Homo sapiens: one gene and its partners. The protein of the gene in region 3 purifies or fractionates together with the protein of the main gene of each other region. This does not show direct contact. Each region holds a gene or a part of one and is shown on either strand. Other genes may lie near its edges. The genes, in order: LSG1, ARHGEF12, VAPB and OSBPL10.

The links.
Region 1: the proteins of VAPB (region 3) and LSG1 purify together in Homo sapiens (affinity purification with mass spectrometry; 5 studies listed by BioGRID and IntAct, with this or other methods). This does not show direct contact.
Region 2: the proteins of VAPB (region 3) and ARHGEF12 purify together in Homo sapiens (affinity purification with mass spectrometry; 5 studies listed by BioGRID and IntAct, with this or other methods). This does not show direct contact.
Region 4: the proteins of VAPB (region 3) and OSBPL10 purify together in Homo sapiens (affinity purification with mass spectrometry; 6 studies listed by BioGRID and IntAct, with this or other methods). This does not show direct contact.

What each region holds. Positions count from the first base shown.
Region 1 is NC_000003.12:194,669,097-194,677,179, forward strand, and holds the start of LSG1 (large subunit GTPase 1 homolog), read right to left. Parts: upstream 3,096-8,083; 5' UTR 3,067-3,095; coding exon 2,968-3,066; intron 1,040-2,967; coding exon 913-1,039; intron 1-912. Other genes in the region: uncharacterized protein LOC124909474, read right to left, coding at 6,547-6,740. UniProt on the Homo sapiens protein: Functions as a GTPase. May act by mediating the release of NMD3 from the 60S ribosomal subunit after export into the cytoplasm during the 60S ribosomal subunit maturation.
Region 2 is NC_000011.10:120,478,891-120,486,440, forward strand, and holds part of ARHGEF12 (rho guanine nucleotide exchange factor 12), read left to right. Parts: intron 1-1,069; coding exon 1,070-1,540; intron 1,541-2,369; coding exon 2,370-2,686; intron 2,687-5,547; coding exon 5,548-5,617; intron 5,618-6,176; coding exon 6,177-6,187; 3' UTR 6,188-7,550. UniProt on the Homo sapiens protein: May play a role in the regulation of RhoA GTPase by guanine nucleotide-binding alpha-12 (GNA12) and alpha-13 (GNA13). Acts as guanine nucleotide exchange factor (GEF) for RhoA GTPase and may act as GTPase-activating protein (GAP) for GNA12 and GNA13.
Region 3 is NC_000020.11:58,384,514-58,392,419, reverse strand, and holds the start of VAPB (vesicle-associated membrane protein-associated protein B/C), read right to left. Parts: upstream 3,192-7,906; 5' UTR 2,961-3,191; coding exon 2,903-2,960; intron 1-2,902. UniProt on the Homo sapiens protein: Endoplasmic reticulum (ER)-anchored protein that mediates the formation of contact sites between the ER and endosomes via interaction with FFAT motif-containing proteins such as STARD3 or WDR44.
Region 4 is NC_000003.12:31,978,200-31,985,671, forward strand, and holds the start of OSBPL10 (oxysterol-binding protein-related protein 10), read right to left. Parts: upstream 3,064-7,472; 5' UTR 2,981-3,063; coding exon 2,700-2,980; intron 1-2,699. UniProt on the Homo sapiens protein: Probable lipid transporter involved in lipid countertransport between the endoplasmic reticulum and the plasma membrane.

The DNA of each region.
Region 1 (8,083 bases), on a different chromosome or scaffold from region 3:
TAAGTTCTGGAGGTCTAATGTACAGCCTGGTGTCCATAGTTAATAATAACACATTTATTAGTTAATAATATGAAATTTGCTAAGACAGTATATATCTTGTTCTCACCGCACACACAAAAAAACAATGTGAGGTGATGGATACGTTAATTACTTGATTTTAGTAATCATTTCACAATATATACATATAACCAAACGTCACACTATATACTATAACTATATACAATTTTTAGTTGCCAATTGTGTAGCTCATTAAAGCTGGAACCCACACATCCCCCCAAAAAACACTAAACAATGAAATCTGAAATCATGTTGTACACGTGCTTAAAGCCCTGTAAAGCCTTAAACCTTTGTTCTCTCCAGAATCTGGCCCTTGCCCACCTCCTCAGCACCTGTGCTCATCACATCCCGCCCCCTGCACCAGCAAAGCCAAACTTCTAGCCATTTTCTGAACAAAGTTGGCTGCTGCTTCACATCTGGGCTCGAGTCCTCTGCCTGTCTGTGTAAAAGGTCTTATCTCATCTGTCCTTTGAACATCTACTCATTGTTCAAGACTCAGGGCGGGCACGGTGGCTCACACCTGTAATCCCAGCACTTTGGGAGGCCAAGGAAGGCGAATCACGAGGTCAGGAGATCAAGAACATCCTGGCCAACATGGTGAAACCCCATCTCTACTAGAAATACAAAAATTAGCCAGGCGTGGCAGTGCGTGCCTGTAGTCCTAGCTACTTGGGAGGCTGAGGCAGGTGAATTGCTTGAACCCAGGAGGCGGAGCTGCAGTGAGCTGATATCACGCCACTGCACTTCAGCCTGGGTGACAGAGCGAGACTCCATCTCAAAACAAAAAACAAAAAAAACCTCAGCCCCAGATGGAAATGTGACAGTCTCACCTGCACTCAGCAATAAACAACTTACCAGCTACAAACTCTGTTCCTGCAAGTTCTGCAGTAGCAAGGAAGTCATCAAGGGAGCTCTGTTCAGTCACTGACTGAAGATTAAGACGACCCCAATCATAGCCATCATTGAGTTCACTTGTGTGCAACTATGAAAAAACACAGGGTGATAAATACAGCTGCTCTCTTCTGCTCTTGGCATCCAATAAGCTCTAAAATTCCTTGCAACTAGTCTATGGTCTTGAGGGTGGTTGTAGTCCCTTTAGAATCAATACTACTTATAGTTAATGTTTAAAGGAACACGTTCTTACCTCACAATAGGCAGTTCCCTTTCACCATTTCATTAATTTTCAAAATCTTTTGAGGTGAATTTTACTGTATTTCCATTTTACTGATGATGAAACTAAGGCTTCAGCAGATAAAATAACTTGCCTATAGTCAAAATCTAAATGGCACAGGTAGAACTTGAACCCAGATTGTCTGACTGTGCTAGTCAAAATTAGTCAAAACTTTATTTGATATAATCCCACAATAAGAAATACATTTTACATAGTGACCCAAAGGTGTATGTACATATAATGATACAAGCATTCAAGTACCGTTCAGTACAGTAAAATGGCAATAGAAGAATACTGAAACCACACCCTATTACATGCAACATTCTGATATTTCTCTATCTTGCTGGGGAAAAAATAAAAACAAAACAAAACAGCTAGCTGCAGACCACTAAATTGACTTCCAGACACAACCCAGAGTTTGATAACCATCACCCTAAGCTATATACTTAGTATAGATACAAATAAAAAAAAATTGCCAGGCGTGGTGGTTTGTGCCTGTAACCCCAGCTCCTCAAGAGGCTAAGGCAGGAGGATTGCTTGAGGCCAGGAGTTTGTGATCAGCTTGGGCAACACAGCAAGACCCTGTCTCTCCAAAACAAACAAACAAAACCAAACAACCAGGCCTGATGGTGTGCACCTGTAATGCCAGCTACTCAAGAGACTGAGGCAGGGGGATTATTTGTGCCCAGAAGTTTGAGACTGTAGTGAATTGGTGAGTTATGATCACACCACTGGCACTCTAGCCTGGGTGACAGAGTGTGACCCTGTCTCTAAAAATGAATAACTGAATGATGAATGAATTTCCTAAATAAATATTAAGGGCCAAAAGTTTAAGTGGGCATAGAATCAGCAAAAATAAGGAATTAGGATCCAATTCTTTACCATTCATGTTCAATCTTCCCACAGTTTCCTAAAAGGCTTCATTAGTAACAAGTTGCTTCAAAGCTAATAAAAATTACCAGTAATCTAATGTCCAGAGTAACTCTGACCTGATGAATACTGATAAGCACTCCATGCTGTTTACTCTGCAGACTATATGGATGAAAGTCAGCTGGTGTGACAGTGGCACACGCTTACTTAGCTCCAGGGACATATTTAACTAAATTTAGCACACGATCTTAGCACTCAACATGTTCTCATTCATTCCCGGGGGAATGAATGGTGAAAATAACGACTAGAATGATGAACACAAGCCAAATCACTTCATTCATTTTTTTAAAGATCCTTCTATAACCTAGTAAAATATTAGGTCTTGTCACACCTGAAAAATCAATGATTTATCTTTGAGCTAAACCACTAGGGGGTGCTTCGCAAGGATGAGGCAAGGATCTGAATTATTTTATATTTCTGGCAGTAACCAACCGCTTCTGGAGGATCCATTCTTTGAACAAATCAATACAAAAATACGTTTTGTCTTTTTCCTGCTCTGGAAGTTCCAAGCACTTCAGTGGCTTCTAGGGCAAAACCCAAACGTACTCAAGACCTGGCATTGAAGACTCTTCAGATTCTCACTCCACGCCTCATCACCACACTAACTCTTCTTTCAAGCTTCTCCTACCTTTGTGTTCTGGGCCTTGCCAGGAGGAGGGCCTGCTACTCAGCTTGGCAGAAACTCCAACTCATCCTTCAAAACCCGGCTGAGGCGTCCCTCCTGCAAAACTTATCTGACTTTTGACCCCGAATTTTGCAGCACTCAGGCTAGACAGAAAAGATAAGAAAGATGACATGGTCTGTCTTACCCAGGAGTCAGTGTGACGATGGCTTCGGCTCCGCTGAGTCTGATGGCGCATAAGGGCCCGTCCCAGCGACCCACCGGCCGGGGCTCTCCTCCGGCCCATGGCAACACGACCGCTGGACGAAGCTTCCCGGCTCGGCGCGTGCAGTTTCCGGGATTCACAGTTCGATCCCCGGAAGTGACGATAAGCGAGCCCAAGTAGTTCAGGCTCAAACTTGAGAGGGGAAAGCAGAATGACTTGTTCTCAAGTTCTCCTTTTACGTCTCGATTTTACCAGTATTATAGAATATAAGTGAAAAAATGGTTCTGGGAAATTTTCGATAGATTTCCTGGCGAATGTCTCGAGTTTGGATAAATGACTGAGTTAAAAGAATGGTCCATTCTTAATTTGTGCGTCGGTCTTTAGCGTCCGGCGAGAAACTAGAGCACGTCGGAAACATGGCGGTTCCTATTCGCGGCACTAGCTCCGCCTTCCGCTGCTTCCGTCAGGAGGACGCGGAGACTCGGAGGAAGAGTGTTTCGGTGGCGCTGGGACGGGGGCGTTTCCCAGCGCTGGTTTTCTGCTGGCGTCCCGAGGTGTGGTCTCTCCGAGGTCCAGCACAGCAACTAACTTTTTGTTTATCTAGCCGACCCCAGCTGCGAACTGGGGAGAAAAGTCTTCGCCTGGATGTGAATTTGGAATGAGAGGCTGAATAGTATTTCCAGAGCTTGGCAAGGTTGTAGGAAAAGCCAACAGGAAGTGACTTACGCTTTATTTCAAAGAAAAAAAAAATGTTTAAACAGTTCTAATTATATTTTCATTACCCTTTTTAAAAATAATTAAAATGAAAGTGAAAACAGTGAGCCAGCTCCACTCCTAGAGGCCTGGGCTTTTGTTCCTCACTTGAATGTTTGATTTCCCTATAATGGGAATAATAGAAAGTCAGCTTAGAGTGGCTGGTGAACTACATTCTCATTGATCCAGAGAACCATCTCTTTGTTTTGATGCTTGGAGAGAGGAAGCAGCTTGAGCAAGTCGTAGATTGAGTGCGTGCAGTGTCAGGAATAAACCCAAGTCTTGTCACTAGCCTGTACACCCCTGGGGAGAGTGGGGAATGAGGGTTGTTAACATGTATTATTTATTTATTTTTATCTTTTGAGACAGAGTCTCGCTGTCCCCCAGGTGGAGTGCAAAGGCATGATCTCGGCTCACTGCAACCTCTGCTTCCCGGGTTCAAGTGATTCTCCTGCCTTAGCCTCCCGAGTAGCGGGAATTACAGACACGTGCCACCGCACCCAGCTAATTTTTGTATTTTTAGTAGAGACAGGGTTTGACTATTTTGGCCAGGCTGGTCTCGAACTCCTGACCTCAGGTGATCGCCCGCCTCGGCCTCCCAAAGTGCTAGGATTACAGGTATGAGCCACTGCGCCTGGCCAAACATGTATTTTTAAATCATAGGATCGAGGTAATGCATATATTACCTAGCATAGCTTGATTTAGCCATTCCACAATGTACACATATATCAAAACATTATGCGGTACAACGTAAGTAATAAACAATTTTTAGTTGTCAATTAAAACAACAGCCAAAAAGAAATAAATAGGATCAAGAATCTGTTTAACCTAGGGCTTTTCACACTTTAATGTGCATATAAATCCCCTGGGAATCTTGTTAACATGCAGATTCTGATTCATAAGCTCTGGGGTGAGGCCTGTGGCTCTAACAAGCTTCCAGGTGATACCCATAGTACTGGTCCTTGGGTCACACTTTGAGTAGCAAGCGTAGTCCACTCTTTCCTGGTGCAAATGAAGACACAGAAGTGGACTGGCTAAAGGTCAGTCATAGCAAGTTAGCATCAGGCGAAACTGGGTCCAGACTCCCACCCATTCTGAATTCCCTGCCAGGGTTTCTGTGTGCTGCACCTTACCCCTCTTACTGAATTGAAGTGAGTTTTGGGAAATGCCCAAGGGACTGCTGGCAAGCTGTGAAGCAGTTGGCAACGCTTTGAGAAGGCAGTGCTCACAGATGAGCAAAGGAATGCATCAGAACATCATTTCTCCCATTTCTCAATTTAGAAACAGTGTATCTTTAAAATCCTACACATAATCTCCAGAAGTAAGATATGAAGAAGACCCACGAAATAGAATTAGCAGACAGCTCCCGGCATTCTCTCCAGAGCTAAGTGGTTAAAGGTCAAACTAACTCATGAAGTAAGATTTCACATTTTAATAATAATACTAGGAGGTGAGATAAAGAAACTCACCATCTCATTCCTAGAGCTCAACCAGGAACTTGGGACTTCATCTAGTTTCTTTTTCCAGATTTTGTCACCTCTGGAGAAAATAAACACTTTGGTTTTCCACTGTTACTTTTCTAAGGGCTTAAAAAATCTTGACCAAATAAGACCAGGCGTGGTGGCTCACGCCTGAAATCCCAGCACTTTGAGAGGCTGAGGCGGGTGGGTCACCTGAGGTCAGGAGTTTGGAGACAAGCCTGGCCAACATGATGAAACCCCGTCTCTGCTAAAAATAGAAAAATTAGCCCGGTGTGGTGGCATGCACCTGTAATCCCAGCTACTCGGGAGGGTGAGGCAGGAGAATTGTTTGAACCCGGGAGACAGAGGTTGCAGTGAACCCACATCGCACCACTGCACTCCAGCCTGGGCAACAAGAGCGAAACTTCGTCTCCAAAAAAAAAAAAAAAAACTTAACCAAATAAACCAAAGTGATAATCAGGAGTGGTGAGGAGTCAAAAGGTCATAAAGATTTAATTAGCAGCAACTACTCCTAGCTGACAAGAAAAGGATAGATAATCCTAATATTTCTCCCAAGACGTTACGAAAATCTACCGATGACAGACAACTGAGTCTCAGTCTTCTCATCTGGTTAATGAGGCTAATAACAATTCCTGCCCTGAAGAGGTAACAAATGAGATAATGCTGCAAGGTGATTGCCTAGTAATTTGTGGGGGTATCATCTGGCACAGCTGAACACGTTTTCTTTCCCCAAAAACTAAGCAATGACGGTGAAAGCCCAGCTGGATAACTGTTCAGTGAGAAGGACAAGGAGGAAAGGAATTGAAGGTGTTGATGAGACAAGATCATGGGACCCAGATTAAAAGGAAGGAGGTAAGATCGTGGGGGAGTGATGATGGTGGTGACGGAGGGTGGAGCAAGGTGCTGGCTGCTGCCCAAGTGAGGGGGTTGCAAAGATGAATCAGTCCAGGTCCCTGCCCTCCAACTGCAGAAACCATTTCACCCACACACTTCAGGAACAGCAATACCTAGCCGAACCCCTGTCACTGCTTTCTCACGCCAGCGGAAACTGTCGCCCACCAGGCTTGTGACTGGAAGATGGGCCAGATCCTCCCGATTCCCCACGTAGCTGAACGCTTCCGTTAAAGCCAGGATTCTCTGAAAAGCTGGCTCCTGGAGGAGGCTGCATTGATTTGGGGATTGGAAGCCTGGCACCCAGCTTCTAAATAGTGACACAGGGAGTGTTCCCTATTCATGGGGTTGCATAATGCTTGATTTCTACCGCGTCTCAACAAATGTAGTTACAAGCTCTGAAACCCACACCCAGCAACAAACTTTGGAGTTGCTTTCAGCTTTCCAAGTCCACACTGTTGTGCCTCTGGGCTCCACATCTGTCTGAGGAAGGAGAGGAAAGAGTGGGTTGGTTTCTGTTGTTTTTCCTGTCATACTTTGGCCAAAAATGAGTTGGTGGCAGAAAAGTTGTTCCAAGGCGAGCTTGCAGTCTGGTCTCTCCTTCTTTCCCATACGATACACCACCTCCTTCTACAAGGACATTAAAACAGTTTGCATAAGACTGAGAGTTGTGAAAATAGACACTGGCAGCCTCTGTAGAGCGTAATTGAATCAGTAGGGAAACTCCCTATGATTAACTGCCATTCTCAGTTTATCCCTATTGAAAATGGGTGGATTCTCACGAGTTTCATAATTCAGCAGATTTTAAAAAATCTTTTAAATTGACATATAATAATTGTATGTATGTATGAGGTGGTTTTGATACATGTATACATTGTGTAATAATCAAATCCGAGTATTCAGCATATCCATCACCTCAGTTATCATTTCTTTCTGGTAAGAACATTCAAAATCCTCTCTTCTAGTTATTTTGAAATATACAACACAATATTGTCAACCATAGTCACCCTACTGTCAGCAGACATTTATTGGTGGCTATTATAATGATTAATTTGAGTCCCTGCAATCAAACATTGATTTCTTGCCTGTGCAAGGAAATGTGTAAAAGACCTCTTGCTTTGGTGACACAGGCCACAAGATCCTATGTATTTGAACCCACGAACTTTTTCTCAACTCGTGTTATGTATGGAATATCTAGTGTCTTTTATTCAGAGATGCCTTTGCAATTACTTTTTCCCTCTTGACAGTCAAGTGAAAAAGGGTATTGTTATTTTACTGCACTTTTAGCTGTAGAAGTTGAGTCTCAATAGGGTTAAGTTAAGCAAATAAAGTAAAATAAAGGAGGCTAGAAGTAGAATTAATAATCACCAACTCTAAAATCTGTACATGGAAAGTCCTAGGTTTCTCCCATTCATTCATTCACTCATTCATTCATTCACTCACTCATCCATTCATTCATTCACTCATTCATTCATTCATTCATTCATTCATTCATTCATTGGTTCATTCATCACAGGACTCTGAGGATTCAGCACTGGACGAACTCCCTGCCCTGAAGAGCTTACACTTTAGTGGTGATCAGCCTAATAGAGAGACTCAGCCAGGGTTAAAGAGCTCAAGTCAGGGAGCCATGAACTACACCACCAGGTAGACCTTACTCCATTAAGAGGGCTTCTGACCACCAGGATTTTATGTTTTGTCTCTGAAAGTGATCCATCTCCTTAATTCCCCATAGTAAATATCCTAATACATATATGCATGTAAACCATAGTAAATATCCTAATATATATATGCATGTAAACCTGGATGGTGCTGGAACGCACAACTATGTCGTATGAGGAAAAGGTGATGGAAATGAGACTAGCCTAAGGAGGGAGGCTCCAGGGGTATGTGGGAACCATTTCCATTGATGTGGAGGACTGTCATAGGGAAAGGAGAGAAGACTGTTCTGAGAAGACACAAGGCAAGAACAA
Region 2 (7,550 bases), on a different chromosome or scaffold from region 3:
TAATTGACTTCTTTGAATGTGAGGTCAAAGGAAAGGGAATATTTAGAGATAATTTCATTAATCTAGTCAGAAATAAGAGTCAGAAAAGGACTACCACTGCTTCCCCCACCTCCTTCCATTGTACTTTCTTTTTTCTTTCTTTTGATTTGGTAGAATTATAGGCTCAGTTTTAAAGCATGTCAAGATTAAGATAATGAATGACAAAACACTAAAAAGTGAGTAACTAGCAGGAAGTTAGAGTTTTAGGAGTGAAACTTTAGAGAGAGGTTAGGAAGAGATAGAGATGTGAGCATCAGAGCCATGAGACTTCCTGGCATCTCTCAGGAAGTGATTGTAGAGCAGAAGGACAGAGGATGAGAGACCTAAGTGGAACCTGTTGCCTAAAGAAACATGACAGACATTAAGCTAGTGATGAGAGCAGAGAATTGGTTATTTAAAACCTACAATATTTTTTATACCTTCTCCTGAATTAACAGTCTTAATAATTTCTGATGGTTGGAATAACATTGTCCCAATAACTCTATCATTGTCTGGGTGACCTCATAGCATACACTTGGCCCATTCAAAATTAAATTGGTTCTTATTTTCAGTAAATGTATGTATCTCATAAAATTAGAGGAAATAATATGCATATAGTGTCTGGATCTGGAAAAAGCAGAACTTTTTTTTAGCTTTTTCTGTCTAGCTTAACACAGCCTTTCAACATTCTTAAGAAGTACCTTTAGGGTATTATTCTAGTTATATAGAAGAAAAAATAGAGGCATGATATTGGTTATTGAGGAGTTCTAAATAGTAGTATCTCCCTATTCAGAATGCTTAGATCTTTTCAAGTTTAGTTTAACGTTAAATCTTCTCTAAAAGATGGTGCTTTATTTCATCTTCAAAACAAAATGGAAAATGATTGTATGAAGTAAGATGATTGTATGAAATTAATAATTAACATTTTAATATGTCATTAAAAGATACTTTTTAAAGATAGATCATTGGTAAGTCAGCTAATTTAATTCTTGCAGCCTGAGGTTATAGTTGTGAATATGTTTTTTTTCCCCCTCCTTCCTAAATCGTTTAGTGGGTTTGTTGAAGCAGTTGCTGGTGCAACAGCTAGGTTTGACTGAGAAGAGCGTTCAGGAAGACTGGCAACATTTCCCAAGATACAGAACAGCCTCTCAGGGGCCGCAGACAGACAGTGTCATCCAGAACTCTGAAAATATTAAGGCCTATCATTCTGGTGAAGGACATATGCCCTTTAGAACTGGAACTGGTGACATTGCAACTTGTTACAGTCCACGGACTTCAACTGAATCTTTTGCTCCACGGGATTCAGTGGGACTGGCACCCCAGGATAGCCAGGCAAGTAACATTTTAGTAATGGACCACATGATTATGACCCCAGAGATGCCTACCATGGAGCCAGAAGGGGGTCTTGATGACAGTGGAGAGCACTTTTTTGATGCCCGTGAAGCACATAGTGATGAGAATCCATCAGAAGGTGATGGAGCAGTTAACAAGGAAGAGAAGGATGTTAATTTACGCATCTCAGGCAAGTATCTTTCACACTTAAACTTTGATTTTGATTTTGATCATTGTTAACTGTCCTGTATTTTGAAATGGATGTTGTATTGGTATCCAGGTGTGTGTGTGTGTGTGTGTTCACACATGTGCAATATTTATTCCTTCATTTGATAAATACTGAATCTACTCTGTACCAGACCTCATCATAGGTGCTGGGAGATATAGCAGTGAATAAAACACAGAAAAATCCCATCTTCTCATGAAGCTAGGGGAAAGAAGGATGGTAAATAAGTAAACAAATAAATAGACTTCAGGAAGTATTAGGAAGAAACATAAGTCAGACTGAGGGGACGGAGAGTAATGAAGGCAAACAGGGTGATCAGGGATTAGGACCTCCGATGAGGTAGCATTTGAGCAGAGACCTCAATGAAATGAGGGAATAAAGCCGGGTGGGTACCTGGGAGCTTACTATTCCAGCAGAGAGCAGAGTGGGGCAGAGGCTTTGTGTCAAAGAGCAAGCTTTTTGTGGTGATCGAACACTGGATGAGGGAGACAATGGCAGGAGATGGGGCAAGAGAGGCGTTTGGCAGGGGAAGTGGTAGCAAGATCATTTAGGCACTGTAGTTTCCAGCTTTAAACTTTTGAAATGAAATTTTTTGGAAATTACCATGAAAGTTTGCAGAGTTTAGCTTTCATCTGAAGTGAGGAAATTCTGATGTACCTGAAACTAAACTCAGGAATTAATGGCTTTTCCCTCTCTTAATAACTTTTCAAGTTGAAGTTGTCAGCACACTATGCTATTTCTGTTTTCTAATGGCAGCACTGGTCTTATCAAACTATTCTGTCTCTATCCATAGGAAACTATTTGATCCTTGATGGCTATGACCCAGTGCAGGAGAGTTCCACAGATGAGGAGGTTGCTTCCTCACTTACCCTGCAGCCCATGACAGGCATCCCTGCTGTGGAATCCACCCACCAGCAGCAACATTCTCCTCAGAATACTCACTCCGATGGGGCAATTTCACCATTCACCCCCGAATTTCTGGTCCAGCAGCGCTGGGGAGCTATGGAGTATTCCTGTTTTGAGATCCAGAGTCCCTCCTCTTGTGCAGATTCACAGAGCCAGATCATGGAGTACATTCATAAGATAGAGGCTGACCTTGAACACTTAAAGGTACCTCATACTTCCACATCCATAGGACTTGGTTGTAAGAAACATTTAGCAGAGGGGAAGAATAGGGTGATGAAAATGCTGATGTCAATAAACTTGTTCAGGTTCTAGATTTCTTTGACTATTATCCATGAATAGGCCTGGGTAAAAAGTTGAGATTGGCATTGTTTATCTTTTTCTTTCTTTCTTTTTTTTTTTTTTTTTGAGACGGAGTCTCGCTCTGTCAACCAGGCTAGAGTGCAGTGGCGTGATCTCAGCTCACTGCAAGCTCTGCCTTCCAGGTTCACACCATTCTCCTGCCTCAGCCTCCCAAGCAGCTGGGACTACAGGCACCCGCCCCCACGCCCAGCTAATTTTTTGTATTTTTAATAGAGACGGGGTTTCACCATGTTAGCCAGGATGGTCTCGATCTCCTGACCTCGTGATCCGCCTGCCTCGGCCTCCCAAAGTACTGGGATTACAGGCGTGAGCCACCGCGCCCAGTCGGCATTGTTTATCTTTTGACTATCACAAGAGCAGAAAAAGTTGCAGCTCTGTGAACTGTGTGTTTGTATGGGTGTCTAAGTTTAAGAACCTGAAATGCTTCGGGTAGTTGGCTGGCCTCTGTCAGACATGAACAAGAAGATGAGATAGGTAGGGTTTATGTAGTTATGAATCTAGGCTGAGAAATGCTATGACTTTCTGTAGCCTATTATCTGTGACTCATTAGGTGACATTGGCAGCTTCCCAAATCCTATGACAGATAGAAATTGGCTTCAGTGGCTCCTGTAATCTAAAAACATGGTCATGCATGGGATTTTTGTAGATTGGTAATTGAAGATGTCACTATTGCAAAACTGACTTGTGTGGCAATTTCCAAGAGAAAGACCTATCTTAAAGTTTTCCATCAGAGGCAGGGCACGGTGGCTCACGCCTGTAATTCCAGCACTTTGGGAGGCAAGGCAGGCGGATCACGAGGTCAGGAGATCGAGACCATCCTTGCTAACACGGTGAAACCCCGTCTCTACTAAAAATAAAAAAAATCAGCCAGGTGTGGTGGTGGGCGCCTGTAGTCCCAGCTACTCAGGAGGCTGAGGCAGGAGAATGGCATGAACCTGGGAGGCGGAGCTTGCAGGGAGCTGAGATCACGCCACTGCACTCCAACCTGGGTGACAGAGCGAGACTCTGTCTCAAAAAAAAAAAAAAAAGTTTGCCATCAGAAAACACAGCTTCCAGAGCCCAAACATTTTCCTCATGACATCATTTACACCAGAGACTTGAGGGGTAGATTTAAGTATCCTTAGCCTTTGAGTTAAAGACTGGTCTCCCTTAGTTTCTCTTTTACCTTCATATAATTGATTTTTCCCTCTTCATGTTACTTATTTTATGTAGTATCATTCTGTAGCTGATGAGATATCGACAAGCCCATTGAGGACAGGTCGGTTCTTATATACAGTCATGTGTTGCTTAGCAATGGGGATATATTCTGAGAAATTCATCATTAGGCATTTTTATCTTTGTGTGAACTTCACAGAGTGTACTTACACAAACCTAGATAGAATATATCTTTATTTACATAGATTTTTTCATATGGAAAGCCAAATCTCTCAACACTATTACTGAATATTAGTCATTTCCCCTACCTGATCAGCAATGCCATTATTAAGTGCCACACACCAGGTTTCTACATGTGCTCCATAATAATCTTTTTTTTTTTTTTTTTTTTTTGAGACAGTCTTGCTCTGTCACCCAGGCTGGAGTGCAGTGGCGCTATTTCGGCTCACTGCAACCTCTGCCTCCCAGGTTCAAGCGATTCTCCTGCCTTGGCCTCCCAAGGAGCTGGGACTACAGGCACCACCACCATGCCCAGATAAATTTTTTTTTTTTTTTAAATGGAGTCTCGGTCTGTCACCCAGGCTGGAGTGCAATGGTGCAATCTCGGCTCACCGCAACCTCCGCCTCCCGGGTTCAAGCGATTCTCCTGCCTCAGCTTCCTGAGTAGCTGGGATTACAGGTGCCCGCCACCACACCCAGCTAATTTTTTTCTATCTTTTAATTTATTTATGTATTTATATTTTTTGAGACAGAGTCTTGCTCTGTCGCCCAGGCTGGAGTGCAGTGGCATGATCTCTCCTCACTGCAAGCTCCACCTCCCAGGTTCACGCCATTCTCCTGCCTCAGCCTCCCCAGTAGCTGGGACTACAGGCGCCTGCCACCATGCCCGGCTAATTTTTTTTATTTTTAGTAGAGACGGGGTTTCACCATGTTAGCCTGGATGGTCTCGATCTCCTGACCTCGTGATCCGCCTGCCTCGGCCTCCCAAAGTGTTGGGATTACAGGCGTGAGCCACCGCGCCCAGTCCCAGCTAATTTTTATAATTTTAGTAGAGACAGGATTTCACCATGTTGGCCAGGCTGGTCTGGAACTCCTGACCTCAGGTGATCCACCTGCCTCGGCCTCCCAAAGTGCTGGGATTACAGGCGTGAGCCACCATGCCCCACCCATAATAATCTTAAGGGACCATCATCATGTATGCAGGCCGCCATGTCTTTATGTGCTGCATGACTATAGCTCATGCACATGATGACGGGACCATGTCCAGGGTGACTCCTGGGGGTGGGAGAATTGCATCTATGGTTACCACCTCTACTTTCTTTTTACATGGGAAAATACTAAGTTATTCCTTCAGTGGAGAAATTGGTAAAAGGAATGAAATTTACTTTTTTCTTCCCACTAATGAAATTTTTAATGATGAAGTTAATATTTTTGAAATTTGGGGGCTTGTACCTGTAATGTAAAAAGGGCTTCTTTTCTGTTTTCTGAAGTTTTTGTTTTGTTTTGTTTCATTACGTTTGAATAAAAAACCTATGGGTTTTATTTCACAGAAGGTGGAGGAAAGTTACACCATTCTTTGCCAAAGGCTGGCTGGATCAGCCCTCACAGACAAGCACTCAGGTATGTAAAAGTTATGAGTTCCAGACTCTAGACTAATCATCCTACACTGAATGAAATGACTTATCATACTTTGAAGTGAAAACCTTCTGAGATTCCATTTCTCTTCTGTCTTTAAAGAACTGCCTGTTTCTAAACATCAGATATCAAGCGGAAGCTCATGCCTGCTGACTCTACTCTTCTCTAAGAGGAACTGCAGTTGTCAGTTCCCATACCATCCCCTCTTCTCTCTCTTTTCACCTTTTCAAAGCAGAAGGCAGAGCAGTGGGAAGCCTGGTAAATCACAGATTCGGTGTGAGGCTTACTGGTACTGCTGTGACTCCCTAGTGTGGAGGATTTGGCCTTATTGGATGTTGGTGCACTTGCCTCTGCTGACAGTGTGGCTGGTGTCTCCCCTGACTGCAGATGGATTTGTGTTCCCTGCAGCAGTTTATACTCATCTGCTTACATACTGATTCAGAAACAAAGATTGAACCACGCCCACAGATGTCATGGGTATTCTTTGCAATGTTAGTATATTCTTTTTCTTAATATCATTTCCATGTATCTTTATTCTTCTCAGATAAAAGTTAGAGCCGCATGTCCTGGAGGTGACTGCAGGTTGTTGGATTTGGAGTATCGGCCGTGTCTCACCACATCCTGGCTCCAGTGTGGATGCAGAGAGAGTGTGACAGAGGATCTGCCTGTGAACCACCTGGGATTAGTCAAGTCCCAAGGTGCCCAGAGTGGGACTAGTTCTTCACAGTGTGGCAGCTGCACTAATCTGTTTGTGAGGGAATATCCATTCCCTCACTCTACTCTCCTCACTATCGGAAATTCATTTTGATTCAGAATAAAAACCAAATGTATAGAGCTTTGGGTGTAGGATATGAAATTGTACTTAGATTTAAGAAAAAGAGAAAATCAGATGTATTTATTTGACTTCATTCCGTATTTGAAAGCACATTTTAATTTTTATTTGCCTTGTTTTGTTTTAATTGAGTAGTGAGAGTTTTAGACCTTTGTCTTTAGTACACCCAAGGATCAACTGCTCCTGAAGCAAAGAGGTCAGGATGGAGTATGCAGAAGTTGGGTAGAGAGGTTAAGAAGAGGAGGAAGTGAGACGGGGAAGGGAGGAGCACCTTGCTTCACTATACAGTATTCCAAGCTCTCTGCTGTCCAGTAGGCTGCTTCTCTGAGGGTCACCTCAAAGGTATGCTATGCCGTGTGGCTCTTATGTGCCCAGGTGGTGTGGTCAGAGAGTGGATGGGCTTCCTCCCGCCCTGAGGCAAGCACCTCTTCTCTGTAGCTGGGATCAACCACAATTAATAGGAATCCTCAACATACTAAATAGCAGGCACTTGAAAATGGGTGTGTTTTCTTCCATTGTCGTCTTTTCTATTGAGGGTTGGGATTTGGGTGGGAGAGGAAAGCAAATTTTATTTTCTTGACTATAAATTTGTTATTCTTGGTATCATTTCATTTTTATAATTATACATTAGACATTGGCACTTGTGTAAAACTGTCCCTGCAGATTGAGCAGGAAGTAAAAACAAATGGAAATGCTTCGGATAGTGGCAGGGGTGGGGGTTGCTAAGGAAAGGGTGGGATGGGAGTGGGTAAAGAGTTTGGGAAGGTTATCTAACTGAATCACTACTGAGTTGAATCATGGCTATCATTAGCCACAGGTACTGCTGATTATAAGGCCAGTAAAATTTTAGTACCTGGAGGTTTGACTCTAATTTTTGCACTGATGGTGCCAAAGGGCCCTGAGTCAAAAGGATAGCCAAGGGTGGAGTGGAAAAAGATATGGTGAAGGCAGAACTGCTCACACCAGCTCCAGAAGCACGTCCTCTGACTTCACTGCCGCAGCTCTTTCCACACGGGGCCGTGATTGACCCTAAAAATTGCAGACCAGCACATACACTGGACACTGCAGGCAAGGTGTTGGTAACTG
Region 3 (7,906 bases):
CCACTTCTCTTGGACCACTTCCCTAGCAAAAATATCCAGTGACTTTGGCATAATTACTTTGGCCAATCCAGGGCCAGAATGATCGCTATTCTCTGCCACACCTTTCAGGTACAGAAGTGATGAAACCACTTAAGTAGTTAAGTGGTTGTCTAATCTCTGTATAGTACTATGCACTTACAAAGCCACTAACAGCCATGTCATTCCTTCTAAACACGTTCTACAAGAGGCAACGTGGACACGAGCATCATCCCCATTGACCGAATAACCACCCCAGGCTTTGAGGAGTGAAGTGGCCTAAGGTCACACATCTTTCAGTAAAACAATTGAACAAAATCTTAAATTTTCTCAAATGAGTGCCTCTTTCCATAACATATTAGACAACAGAGTTTGTACTGGGATTTGGGGGTTTTCAGAAAGTTAATGCAAGGAAGGACTGCTCAAGGAGAAGCAACACAATTTTAACTTGGACACTGGCTGCATCTATGCATAAAGGGACTGAGATCTGACTCTTGTCTACTCACCAGCCTTGTCTCCCATCTTGCCAGGCAACCACAACAAATGTTCTTTGTTGCTGTCATTCAGAACCACTAGTGGTGGCCGGGCTCACGCCTGTAATCCCAGCACTTTGAGAGGCCAAGGAGGGCGGATCACTTGAGGTCCGGAGTTTGAGACCAGCCTGGCCAACATAGTGAAACACCGTCTCTACTAAAAATACAAAATTTAGCCAGGCGTAGTGGCACATGCCTGTATGTAATCCCAGCTACTCAAGAGGCTGAGGCAGGAGAATCACTTGAACCTGGGAGGCAGAGGCTGCAGTGAGATGGCGCCTCTGCACTCCAGCCTGGGTGACAGAGTGAGAACTCTATCTCAAAAAAAAAAAAACTACTAGTGGCATCCCAAAGGAGCCCAGTCATCTCAGTGTTTGTGCCTCTGTGCATGCAATTTCCTCTGTCTGAAATGTTCCCCACCCTTTCCTTCTTTGAGCCTTCTTCTACTCGACCTTTATAACTGAGCTCAAATGACACCTCTTTCAGGAGTTGACCTCCTCAATGCTCCTGGAGCACTCTGGACTACCCTACATCATTGTCCTGTCCTGGCTGTTATTCTCATCTGCCCCCTTCCCTAAAGTACTGGGAGGAGGTTGAGGGAAAATAGGAGAGTACAGCTGATATAACTTGGCTTCTCTGGGTATCTGACACACAGATCAGGTACTCAGTAAATGTTTGTGGACTAACCGAATGAACCCACCAATTATCAGGAGAAGCCAAGCCAGGCCTCCCAGATAGAGAAAGAACTTCAGACAACTCAAGTGGAAACTAAGGCTCACTATTTTCACTTTAGCTACCTGGACTTCTTTCCCAATCTGGCATCCCCAGAAGGCCATGAGAACATCATGAAAGCTCAAGTACTATCCTGGAATTACAATCCACGGTAGGTTTGGTGGGGTTTTTCGGTTTTTTCATTTTAATTGGAAAGCCTTTGGTTCTCTGTAAATTCAGAGTTATTTCACATTGTTAACTTGGAAGGCAAAGTGACAGCCACCGTTCTGGAGTATTTCCCAGCGATCAGACAGCAAAACGGTTAAGAGCGTGAACTCTGAAGTCTGGGTTCAAATGTACCATTTGCCAACTGGGTAACTTTGGGTAAGTTACCCTACACTACTTCCCAATAGGACATATAAACTGGAGAGCCTCTGGCCATTCATTCATTCATAAATACCAACTGAGCATCTACTGTGAGTCCGGTGCTAGCGATATAGTGGAGACCCGGCCTTCCAATCTAAAGTACGCTTCCATGGAGTCAGACTGTTCCATTTCCTACACAGCACTTAGCACTATCTGCAATGATCTTGTGTGTTGGTTTGTCTGTCCTCGTCGGAAGGTAAGCTCTGTGAGAGCAGAGGCCTTATCTGTCTTGTGCATCCATCACCTCCCCAGAGCCTCCCACATCACTGGATACACGCAAAAAGAAAGAATGAGCATGTCAGACAAGAACTTTTACCTCGTGGCCCTGGTGAAGGTAGGAAAAAAAAAAAAAAAACAAAAGTAACAACATAGAAAACATAAAGGCACAAATTACAGAGGTAATAGTATCTGGGAGAAACCAGGGTCATGGCTTCCCATCGCCGCAGGTGTTGCTCCAGACAGCTCTGCGGAGAAAAAGGATCCCAGCACCGTGGCAGCCTCCTTGCACCGCAACCAGGAGACAGCATGAGGGACGCAGTGAAAGGAAAATGGGCCCAATCCCATCAGAAGTCCTGAGGAGGTTCATTTGTTGGTTCAACATGTTCATCTGTTGGTTCAACAGGTATTTATTTACTAGGCGTATAATGTGTGCTGGGTACACAGCAGCGAACTGACAAGAGCCTGTCCTCATGCAGTTTCCCTTCTAGTATTGAAACAGTGATTTTGGGTATGAAAAGTGCCGTGCTGACCACGAAACAGTGACGGAATAGGGAATGACAGCAGGTGTGCACGGTGGCTGGGTGGTCACAGCAGGCCTCTCTGAGCAGCTGACACCTCAACTAAGCCCTGAGGTCAACACTGTCACGGAGCAGGGGAAGAAACTTCTAGGCAAAGGCAGCGGCGGAGGCTCACACTAGAGAGGATCACAAACTGGTAAGTTACAAAGTGACAAGTGCCTCGAAGGCAAGTCCCAGGAGGCTGGGGGTCGGGGAGGAGGCGCAGGCCCCGGCTCCCGCACCAGCCCTCTCGGGTCCCGGCCACTCCGGGCAGTTCTGGGGAGCGCGGCGAGCGCCAAGGCCCGGCCCGGCCTCGCCGCCCCCCGCGACAGCGCCGTCGGGGTGGGGACGAGGGCCGACGTCACCCGCCGCGCCGGGCTCCGTCCTTCCAGCACTGGGGCGGAGGCCGCGGGCAGGAAGGTGGCGGCCTCTGGGGCTTACCTCGGAATTTGAGCTCGTGCTGCGGCTCGAGGCTCAGGACCTGCTCCACCTTCGCCATGTTCCTTAGCGGCGGAGCACCTTTGGCGGGGAGACCCCTGAGAGGTCACCGGGGCGGGAAGCGTTAATGCTGCGCCCGCTTTAAGTTTTACAAAAAGGCGGGGACCGGTCGGGGCACGGGCGGGGGTCCTCTACCGGGTGGGCGCGCTGGGGGGGGGTCGGTCTACGCGGTGCAGGCGCAGGGGCGGAGGGCGAGGGCGAGGCCGCGGTGCCCGGCGAGCTGACGGCACGCACGCACGCACGCACGCACGCAGAGTCGTACACACGCACGCACGCAGCAGGCTGGCCCGCTCTGGCGGCGGGAAGCTGCGCCCTGCGCCGCCGGCTCCAGGGGCGGGGACTAAAGCTGCGCGCGTAGAGCCCCTTCCGGGACAGTGCGCAGGCGCGGCACAAGCCACGGGGGCGGGACTGCGGGGCAGTAAGGGGCGGGGCTTCGGGCCGCTCAGGAGGCGGGGTCTGTAGTCCAGCTACGACAGCCACCGCGGAAACTATTAAGGGCCCGCTGGGGGCCAGCTTCGTGTTAAGTGCTTTATTCAATAATAACAATTAGAATAAACTTCCACTTTTCTCTTGCTTATGTAGTGCCAGGCACTGTTAGAGACTTTGAATAATAGTGAAAGTACTTAGTATAAGTATAATGTTTATGGGTGAGTGATATGGGCTAGGCACTGTGACGTCTTGTAAATAATAATTATAAATATAATAAACTACCAATTATTGCTTATTTATTTTGTATCACTCTACTGAATGCTTCCAATAACAACAGCAACTACAATAAATACAAGCTACTCTACGTTAAATGTTTACTATGCAACTGGCACTGTGCTGAATTCTTTACTAGTAAATTCTATTTGTTTATGCAACAAATATTTAGAAATACAATGATCAGAAAAGCGAACCTGATTCCAATCCTTTTACTATAGCCTAGTGAAGAGACATCTTTTGAATAAATAACCACACACGTAAGTTAAATAATTAAAAATTGCTGGAGAATCCAGATCTGCTTGACCTCAAAAGTGGATACTCTACATCATGATTACCGTTTAAATTGTATTTCATTATATTATGTTTACTATGGAAGTTAAATAGGTGTTCTTAATAGTCTCCTATACATACCCATATAGGTGAGACAAATGTGGCAAATTGCTAGCAATGGCTGACTCTACATCGCAGGTATATGGTTTTCTTGTACTGTTTCTCCCACTTTGCTGTATACTTGAAATTTTTCATGATAAAAAGGTTTTTTAAAAGAATAGTCTTTGTATTTTAACTGGAGCATTTAGTCCATTTACATTTATTATATTTACTGATATATCTGGAATTATTTCTACCATTGTATTTTGTTATTTCTATTTGTCCTGCCTGGTTTTTTTCCCCTTTCCTTTCTTCTTTAGGGTTTATTTTTATTCTCATTCTGATTTTCTTCACCTGTATACTCTATTTCTAAGTTTTAGTGGTTACTTCAAACTTTTGGGCATGCATACTTACCTTGTGAAAGTCCAATATCTTTAAATATTTGTAAAAATGTCTTTACCCTGTTTCCTTAAAATATAAAGACTTTGGAGTACTTTAATCACCCATCCTCTAAATTATACACCTTAATGTAGTGTATGTTAAGTTTAACCTTTGCCACTGTAACCCCAAGAGACATTACTAAATTGTTTTATTCAGTCAACATTAGTTTAGATTCAGCCACACAATTACCATTTTTATCCACCTTTTCTTCTTGCATCTCAGCTTTCACCAACAGGATCACTCTCCTTTTGCCTGAGGTAAATCCTTTAAATTTTATTTTTTTGTAGCTTCGTTGGTGCAAATCCTCTCAGTTTCTGCTCATCTGCAAATGGATTCATTTTTGCCTTTTGTTGTTTTTATTTTATTTATTTATTTATTTGGAGATGAGGTCTTGCTCTGTTGCCCATGCTGGAGTGCAGTGGCATGATCGTGGCTCACTGCAACCTGTATCTCCCAGGCTGAAACAATCCTCCCACCTCAGACTCCGGTGTAGCTGGGACTAAAAGCATGCACCACCACGCCCAGCTAATTTTTTTATTTTCTGTAAAATCTCACTATGTTGCCCAGGCTGGTTTCAAACTCCTGGGCTCAAGTGATCCTCCTGCTTCAGCCGCCAAAGTGCTAGGATTACAGGCATGAGCCACTGCGCCTGGCCTTGCCCTTGTTCTTGACAGATATTTTGGCTTGCTTGCTTGAATGACAGCTGTCCTCTCTCAGCACACTTGATTGCCATCCACTGTTTGCCTGTTCCCCCTCATTGCTCCTCAGGAGTCCAGTGACAATCTTAACATCGTTCCTTCATAGGTTGTTGGTCTTTTCTCCCTCTTCTCATGTTCTACAGTTTTACCATGCTGTATCTTTTTTTTTTTTTTTTTTTGAGACGGAGTCTCGCTCTGTCCCCCAGTCTGGAGTGCAGTGACGCCATCTCAGCTCACTGCAACCTCCGCCTCCCATGTTCAAGCGATTCTCCTGCCTCAGCCTCCTGAGTCGCTGGGATTACAGGCACGCACCACCATGCCCAGCTAATTTTTGTGTTTTCAGTAGAGACAGAGTTTTGCCATGTTGGCCAGATGGTCTCAAACTCCTGACCTCAGGTAATCCACCCACCTCGACCTCCCAAAAAGTTGGGATTACAGGCGTGAGCCACCATGCCCAGCTCATGCTGTTATCTTTTTATTTATCCTGCCTTGAGTTCTTTGGGCTTTCTGAATTTGATGATTGGTGTCTTTCATTATTCTTGAAAACTCTCAGACAATACTTTTTTTTTTTCAATTTAATTTTACTTTTTTATTGTGGTAAGATACACATCACATAAAATTTACTCTCTATCATTTTTAAGTATCCAGTGGTATTAACAAGATTCCTATTGTGGTGCGACCTCACCATCATCCATCTCTAGAGCTCCCTTCATCTTGCAAAACTAGAACTCTGTACCCCTTAAGCAATCATTCCCCATGCTCCCTCTCCTAAGCCCCTGGCAACCATCATTCCACATCCTGCCTCTGTGAATTTGACTAGTCTAGGTACTTTTTGTAAGCAGAATCATACAATACTTGTCGTTTTGTGACTGGCTTATTTTGCCCAGCATAAAGTCCCCAAAGTTCATCCGTGTTGTATCATACGTGACAATATCTCTGTTAAATGTTATCTTGGATGGACACAGTGGTTCATGCCTGTAGTCTCAGCAATTTAGGAGGTCAAGGCGGGCAGACTGCTTGAATCCAGGAGTTCAAGACCAGCTTGGGCAACATGGTAAAACCCCATCTCCACAAAAAATACAAAAAAAAAAAAAAAAAAATTAGCCACGCATGGTGGTGCATGCCTGTAATCCCAGTTACTCAGGAGGCTGAGGTGGGAGGACTTGAGCCCAGGAGGTGGAGGCTGCAGTGAACCATTATACCATTGCACTCCAGCCTGGGGTAACAGAGTGAGATCCTGTCTCAAAAAAAGAAGAAATAAAAATAAATGTTATCTCAACCTCGTTCTCTCACTCTTTACATCTTGTAGTGTGATTAGTAGTTATTCAACTAATATTTTTCAAACTGTAGGTTGTTTTCCAACAGTGGCTTATAAAATCAATGTAGTAGATTGTTACCAGTGTTGAGAAAGAACGAGAATATAATATATTGGAGTGTATTGTATTATTTCATGAATCTTTTGTTTCAGTTGTATTTATTAATATACACATATCTATGGAGTGAGTCACAACTAAAATACATTTATTACTGTGGATTGTGAAAGAAAAAGAGAAAAGTCTTGTGCCCTTCTCCATGTCTATTAACCTCTCTATCACATCTTAATCTGTCCTCTTTATGTTCCACGTTCTGGATAGTTCTTCAGATCTTTCTTCTAGTCACTAATTATCTCTTAGGCTATTGATAAACCTGTTTCAGGAGTTTTTCATTTTGTTTATTTTTTTTTAAGCCTATAAGTTCTATTTTGTTCTTTTACATATCCAAGTAGTTATAGGTTGTGTTTTTTCTTTTTTTTTAATTATTATTTGAGACAAGGTCTCCCTCTGTTGCCCAGGCTGGAGTTTAGTGGTGTAATGTTGGCTCACTGCAGCCTCTACCTCATGGGCTCAAGCCATCCTCCCACCTCAGCCTCCCGAGTAGCTGAAACTACAGGTAGGCACCACCACACCCGGCTAATGTTTGAAAGTTTTGTAGAGATGGGATTTCACCACATTACCCAGGCTGGTCTCGAGCTCCTGAGTTTATGCAATCCGCTCGTCTCAGCCTCCCAAAGTGCTGAGATTAATGGCATGAGCCACTGTGCCTGGCCACATTTATAGGTTTTTTAACACTGGTTCCCAGCTCCTCTGCCCTCCCCCAGGGAATGGTGCCATAACAAAGCTTTAGTGTTGGTCTCTTCTGCCGGGTCACTTTGGTAAGGGGAAGCCCATGTTCCTAAGCCCATACAGAGCCTCCACACCTGCCACCATGGCCACTGCATAAATAAGCTCATTGAGCACGCAATGGCACAGCTGTGGGAAAGACTGACTGTTGTCTGCAGAATGTGCCCTCTTGTCCACTCAATTAATAGAGTTGCTGCTGCAGTAGATGTCTTTGAGTGGGCATTCACATGAGACACCAGTGTCTTTTTTTTTTTAATTTAGAGGCGGAGTCTTGCTCTGTTGCCCAGGCTGGAGTGCAGTGGCACGAACTCGGCTCACTGCAACCTCCACCTCCTGGGTTCAAGCAATTCTCCTGCCTCAGCCTCCCAAGTAGCTGGGATTACAGACGCCCACCACCACGCCCGGCTATTTTTTGTATTTTTAGTAGAGACGGGGTTTTACCATGTTGGCCAGGATGGTCTCGAACTCCTGACCTCATGATTCACCCGCCTTGGCCTCCCAAAGTGCTGGGATTACAGGCATGAGCCACAGCGCTTGGCCGAGACACCAGTGTCTTCACACCCATCCTGAGAGGT
Region 4 (7,472 bases), on a different chromosome or scaffold from region 3:
AGAACTTGGTTGCTATAGATTTGTCATTAACTGTGGGCACTTTGAAAAGAACTGCCAAAGGAAGATGCTATGAGGCCCAGAAAGAAAGGCAGCAGGAATCAGTTGGCTAACTATTTGTACTAAGGCATTTCCCTGGACCAGGGAAGGGTGGTAGCTCCAGCTCCTAGAACAGTTCCTGCCACATAGTAGGTGCTCAATAAAACAGTCTGTGAATAGATAATTGAACAAATGAATACATTTTCAAAGTTTCTATTTTTATCCTCTTCTCTCTTCCTTTTCACTAATCCATCTGTCCCTTCATAAGACCCCTAGAGAAGGGAGAATTTTGCAAGCACAGAGTCATCGTAATCTTCTCCAAACCACTAATGGACCCTCAGCCATCGTTCAAAGAACAAAATGTGGGAAATAGAAACCCTGACACTGAGATGTTAACAATTACAGACGATGCTTATGGAGTCAGTGGTAGACTTGGAAAACGGTGAGTCTACTGTGGTAAGAACAAACATAGGCAGACAGCTATAAATTGCAGTAAACAAACTCAATAAAGATGAGACATCACTTAAGCATGCTCAGGAGTGTACTTAATACCACATTTCACCTAGGTAGCCTGCTATCACGTAGGTATTATTATTGGCATTAAATGTGCTTCTTCTCAACCTTGCCTCCAATCTAAACACCACAATGGGTTTAAAATAATGCAAAAGAATGTTACTCCAATGCCTCCTAAATCCACTCCAAATAACAAATCCTTTAATACAGACTGCAAGGTAAAATATTGTTCCCCAGCAAGTAAATAATAAAATAACTGTAATCCAGGGTAAAAGCTTTGCTGGCCTCATAATCTACTTGAAGAAAAAGCATTAAGTGATTGCTCAACACACCAACAAAATGCTGTTACTGACAAGGCACCTTGAGTTGCCATTAACGAGACATAATTACCAAGAACTGAAATCAGATTTAGTCATCTCATATCTCCCTCTACCTACGCATTCTACCTATTCTTTTTCAGCTTTCACGAATTGAAAGGGGAAGGGAGAGGCAACAGCAGACACTAGGACTATTTTGAGAAATAAAAGGATTCAAAAGTTAAGTGCAACTTCCACTAACATAGTAACACATCTCCCAGGAAGCCCAGGTGACTCAGAAAGTCCTATATGTAGAATATCAATATAGAAACAACTCAGTTTCCATACTTCAAAAGACCTCTTCCTCCAAGTTGAGTTTCGTGCAGATAACTGGCTGATATGTTTCAGATGGAAGCAAATCTGAACATTTCCAAACAATCTACAGGAAGAGATAACCAAGTAATATAGTCCATGCAGCAGAGATAAGCAACTTTCCAGGGTATAATTCAAATCTCACAAACATCCTTAAGAGCCCCAAGTCTATTAAGATCTGGAGACTGTTAAATAGGCAGGACAAAATATCCCACCAACCACCTCTCCAAAAAGCATTGTTCTCCTCGCACTGACACTTGTATTTCCCTCTGGCTTGTTTTTGGAAAACAAATTGAAAAAAAAAACAAAAACAAAAAGTAAACAGTAGTGCCACATCTGTTCTTGTCTTCCTCACGATGGCAGATCACACACACTACCACCATTCCAAGTGCCTCCTGAGCCCCTTTCCTCGACAGCCCCATCCTTCCACGTGTCCATAACTAGGCTTCTCAACTGCAAGGGGGAAGTGAGCAGGAAACTTCAAATGGGACCTGAAGAGGAAATAATGATAATAATGTAAATTGCTACTAATATTAAAAGGGGGAGGGTATTTTTTCTTTCTTTTTATTATTTTATTTTATTTTATTTTATTTATTTATTTTTTTTGAGTCGGAGTCTCGCACTGTCGCCCCGGCTAGATTGCAATGGCGCGATCTCGGCTCACTGCAACCTCTGCCTCCGGGGTTCAAGCGATTCTCCTGCCTCAGCCTCCGGAGTAGCTGGAATTACAGGCGCGCCGCCACGCCCGGCTAATTTTTTTTGTTTTTAGTAGAGACGGGTTTTCACCATGTTGGCGAGGCTGGTCTCGAACTCCTGACTTCGTGATCTGCCCGCCTCGGCCTCCCAAAGTACTGGGATTACAGAGGTGAGCCACCGCGCCCGGCCTCTTTCTGTTTTTAAACAAAACTTCCATTACAAACATCGGAGGCTGCAAGGCACAAACTGGGGCAGGAGTATGCACAGTCGCCCAGGATGACAAGTGGCAGGTTTTTTGTTGATGGTGGTGGTGTTCTGAAACACCAAACTTTAAAATGAACTGTTACTTAGAGAATTACTGTAATCGGAGCGGACGTGCTAACGCTTTTTCACCCCGGCACAAAGCACGCCCCTTCTGCCTCCCTTTCCCAGTCATTCTTCAGGCGTGCGGGAAACCGCGGACAAGCAGAGCACGGGGACCAGCACGATCCTCCTGCCACCACTCCAGTCTCTGCAGGTGCCAGCATAGAAGAAAACCAGGGCTCTCGCCTCCCTCCCCGCCACTGCGGTGCGGTCCCGGGGTGGAGCCACGGCGCGCCCCATCCTGAGAACCCCACCTGGAGGGGAGCAGGGACGCAGGAAGGGCACCGTTGGGAGGCATCACTGGGTTCGCTGAAGGCACAATCGCGCGCGCACACACATACACAGACACACATACACACACGCACGCACACACACACACACACACACAGCGGCGCGCGGTGGCGCGGGCGGCTGGCGCGTTACCTGTTCTGCCAGCCCTGGAGGAGGTTGGTGTATTTGCTGAGCACGCCCTCGAGCGCCGGCTCCCTCCTGCGGCCGCCTCCCCCGGACGGGCTAGCGGCCACAGAGCCCGGGCTGCTGCGGCTTCCCCCGCCGCCGAGCCCGGCCGCCGCCGACCGGCTGGAGACCCCCCGGCCCGCCAGAGAGCAGGAGGGCGAGGAGCCCGCCGAGGTAGCACGGCTGCTGCTGCGGCTGCTGCTGTTGCTACCCCCGCCGCCGTCTGTGCCCTGGACTGCCCTCTCCATGGTCCGTGGGCGCCCGGGACGCGGGTGCCCGCCGCGGTGGCGGCCCCGGCACGGCGGCTGCTGCTGCTGCTACAGCTCCGGACGCCCGGGCCGCGCGTGCCTGCTCCAAATCCCCGGGAAATGCCTGACTCATACAGGAGGAAGAGGAGGAGGAGGCGAAGGAGAGCTGGGAAGGAAGCCAACGGGGCTGGATGCAGCTGCGGCCGCCCCTCCTCCCGCCGCGGCCAGGGCCCGGCCCCTCCCTCCGCACTAGTTTCCCGGGCAAGTTCGGAGCGGGTGGCCGGCTAGGCGAGCCCTCTTCGGGTTCCTCCTTCTCTTCCTTCGTGTCCCTGCGGCCTCTCAGGCCCTCGGGACACTCTAGGAGGCCGATCTGCAGGGTGGGCACGCCCTAAATCCACGCCAAGTCACCCACGCATTCCTTCTGCCACCCTCTCTTGGATCCGAAGGGGCGAAAGGGAATCTCTGCACGTCACTCCCCACCCCTTATCCACCTCGGGACCTGGAGGGAGGGGCAGCCCCACCCACCCGGTCCACCCGGATATGGACCCGCCCGGCCTGACAGGCTCACACGCACACTCCCTCTCTCGGTCTTCCGCACACGATGCTGCGCCAGACGCTCCTACACAGTAACCTGGAAATTATCACCGGCGGAGCAAAGTCACAGCTCAGGGAGGCCCTCCGCGTTGTCTGGCGGAGGAGGGGAGTGGCAGGTGATCCTCACAGGTAAGCTCGCCGGGCATTTTCATGCAGCAGGATTATGATAAATGCTTAACAGACACACGGCTGGGCTGGGGTGAGGCGCGCGAACTCTCAGGTTTGTGCGAGTGCTTCCTTAAATTGAGTGTCCTAGGTCACTCACTGGCCTAACCCTAATCCCCTGCCCTGAATGGCACGCATAAACCTGGCAAGTCAAAACCTATCCATTGCTACCACACTGCACGTGCACCTAGGAGCAGAGGCTCTGAAACCGGGAAAACTGCTCCAGAGGCAAGGGAAATTAACAGATATTTACAAACATTGAAGGATTCTCTGTGTTGGCTGTAACTTCTGCGCCCCTCTTCCTACCTAAAGATACTCTTTCTATCCCACTAATATTTTTTGTGAATATAGATATCCATTGTAATCTGAAGTATCAAAAATTACCTAGAAAAAAGCTTTGAGGAACTCAGACTCTCTCTCTCACACACACACAGACAAAACAAAAGGTGATAGATGATAGGTGATCTCCGTCCAAAGGATCTACAAACCCATCAAGCAGATAAATACTTCAAGAGTTAAAAAAAATTACTAAATGGAAAAGTCAGCTCTCAAAGGGACAGTTCCCCGAGCCCAACCCCTTTCTAGCTTCACATCCTTCCAGGAAGATTTCATGGGTGGTTTAGCTCTAGAGATGCACGGAGAAGCTTCTGGAGTTGAAGAGAAGTGGTTGTGCCCCTGAGTAAATTACAATTCCAGGTGCCTACATAGTGTTAAAAAAAAAAAAATCTGAAAAGAGCTTGCCTGGACCAAATTTGAAGCCATTCAGAGCTGAATTCTAACCTATGACCTTGATCAAATTACCTCTTTTAGCCTTAGTTTTCTCACTGCAAAATGGGACAAATGATACCGGCTGTAATAAACTATGCAAGAATGTTCATTTGTTCAAAATATTTACTGCCGCTTCCTATGGAAAGAGTATCCTTCCTCCACATGGACCTTAGGCTTGGCCATGGAATTGCTTTGAGCAATGGAATGTGAACAGAAGTAATGAATGCCCCTTCCAAACATAAGCTTTAAGAGCAGTCATATGGTTCCACCATCTTTCTCTTTTCCTTATCCCAGGAGAGCAGCATGTCCCGGATAAGGACTCTCCTTAAGCTTGTGTCCTGGAGTGAGAAGGTGTGGAATACAGCAGATCCTAAGCCAGTTAGTGTTGGCCATGTAACATGCACAAAATGTTTGTTTGAAGCCATTGAGATTTTAGCATTATTTTTTACCACAGCATAGCTTTGCCTAAGCTAACTTACTGATCATATATGAGTGTTCATTGAGTCCTGCATTGACATACAGACTGAAGGTGGGAAGGTAGGTGCATACTGGACTATAAATGTCAGCATTATGTACCAAAACAACATGCCTTTTATTGGAGACTGCCACCTTAAGCTCCTGCTAAAAGAGGAGAAGTGTCATTTTATTTCATATTACCTAACCTATGCCACCATTACTCCACCTTATGCAGCCAACCTAAGACTGAATGAGCTAGCACAACAAATTCTCACCTTGGACTAAAAAATTAGACCCTTGAGATAGACCAGTTCAAGTGGGGAAGGAACTAAGCTAAAAGGAATAGTCAAGGCCAGGATGGGGCAGGAGCAAGCCAGCCGTATGGGATCAAAAATGTCCAAGAGGTGAGTGGAGCAGATGTGCTGAAAGTAGAGGCTATATCATGAAAGAGTGATGAAGCACATGCTGTTCCTCCTGCTGGTGACACTGTTCCCTGCTCTCTTCACCCGGTTTGTGTTTCTCACCCATGGAGTTATGGATTACAAGTCACTTCTTCCAGAAAGCTTTCCTTGACCTACCGTAGTATAGCAAATAGGGAAAAGGTACCTGCAGAATTATGTTTGGAGAGGAAAAAGTCTTTATGTTTGAAAAACAATTTGGAAAATACATAATAAGTTGGCAAAAAGTATTTGAAATACATACTGTAATGCCCAACAGTTTCATCTTGCTTGTTACCCGGAAAAGCCAATGCAGGTTTTTGCAATAGAGGAAGAGTTTAACAATTGTAGGGCCAGCCAAGCTGGAGCACAGGAGTGTATTATTACTCAAATCAATCTCCCTGAAAATTCAGAGCCTAAGGGGTTTTTTTTGTTTTTGTTTTTGTTTTTGTTTTGAGACTGGAGTCTCGCTCTGTCACCCAGGCTGGAGTGTAGTGGCACGACCTCAGCTCACTGCAAGCCCTGCCTCCCGGGTTCACGTCATTCTCCTGCCTCACAGCTTCCCCAGTAGCTGGGACTACAGGCACCTGCCACCATGCCCAGCTAATTTTTTTGTATTTTTAGTAGAGATGGGATTTCACTGTGTTCACCAGGATGGTCTCGATCTCGTGACCTCGTGATCCGCCCACCTCGGCCTCCCAAAGTGCTGGGATTACAGGCGTGAGCCACCGTACCGGGCCCACCTAAGGTTTTTTTTTTTTTAAGGATAGTTTGGTGGGCAGAGGGCTAAGGATGGGGAAGCTGATAGATTGGGTGAGGGATGAAATTATAGAGAGTCGAAGTTTGTCTTCTTGCACTGAGTCAGTTCCTGAGTAAGGGCCACAGGACCTGATGAGCCAGTTTACCAGACTGGGTGGTGGCAACTGGTCCGTCAGAATGCAGGGTATGAAAAACACCTCAAACACAAATCTTAAGTTTTACAATAGTGGTGTTATCTATAGGAGTGATGGGGAGGTTAGAAATCTTGTGACCTCTGGAAAAATGGCAGATTATCATTTAACTATGCCTTTATCTTAGCAAAGTTCAGACCTCTCTTAAGCCTGTGGCCTTTCATTAGTTTTACAAAGGTAGTTTGGTGTTCAAACAAGGAGGGAATAGTTTTGGAAAGGGATATTACAATCCTTGCTTTAGGGTTAGACTATGAACTAAATTCCTCCCAAAGTTAGCTGTGGCCTGTGCCCGGGAATGAACAAGGACAGCTTACAGGTTAGAAGCAAGATGGAATCAGCTATGTCGAATTTTTTTTACTGTCATAATTTTGCAAAGGCACTTTCGGTATGATTAAAAATATTGGCTAGGCCAGGCGCGGTGGCTCAAGCCTGTAATCCCAGCACTTTGGGAGGCCAAGGTGGGCGGGTCACGTGAGGTCAGGCGTTCAAGACCAGCCTGGCCAACATGGTACAACCCTGTCTCTACTAAAAATACAAAAATTAGCTGGGCGTGGTCATACACGCCTGTAGTCCCAGCTACTCAGGAGGCTGAGGCAGGAAAATCGCTTGAACCCAGAAGGCAGAGGTTGCAGTGAGCCAAGATCACACCATTGCACTCCAGCCTGGGCAACAGAGCAAGACTCCATCTCAAAAAATGTTTTAAAAATACAAAATATTGGCTAAACACAAATGCTCAATATAAGGACCATTTCCTTAATTTACCCAGATTGCATAAATCACTTAGAAAAAATTTTAAACGTAAATAGAATGACTGGAAATCTGACAGCCATCACAGACCATGTAAAGATTTTGGGAATGAAGCTATGCATGATTGGAGCAATAAGATAAACACATTATACCTCTTGAAATAATGGACAGAATCAGTAGTTCCTAGTAGGGAGCTGACTACCCCATCTTCTTCTCCACATGGACCTGGAGGGCTGGTCTGGAGTTTCTAGTAGTTGTTTCTGAGGCTCCCTCCTCTAGTTAGAAAGCCTTAGGAGGATGTTCATGGACCAGCAAGTAAGTGAGTGGACATTGACTTCATTGGCCAGATGACAGGAATGAAGCTTGGCCACGAAT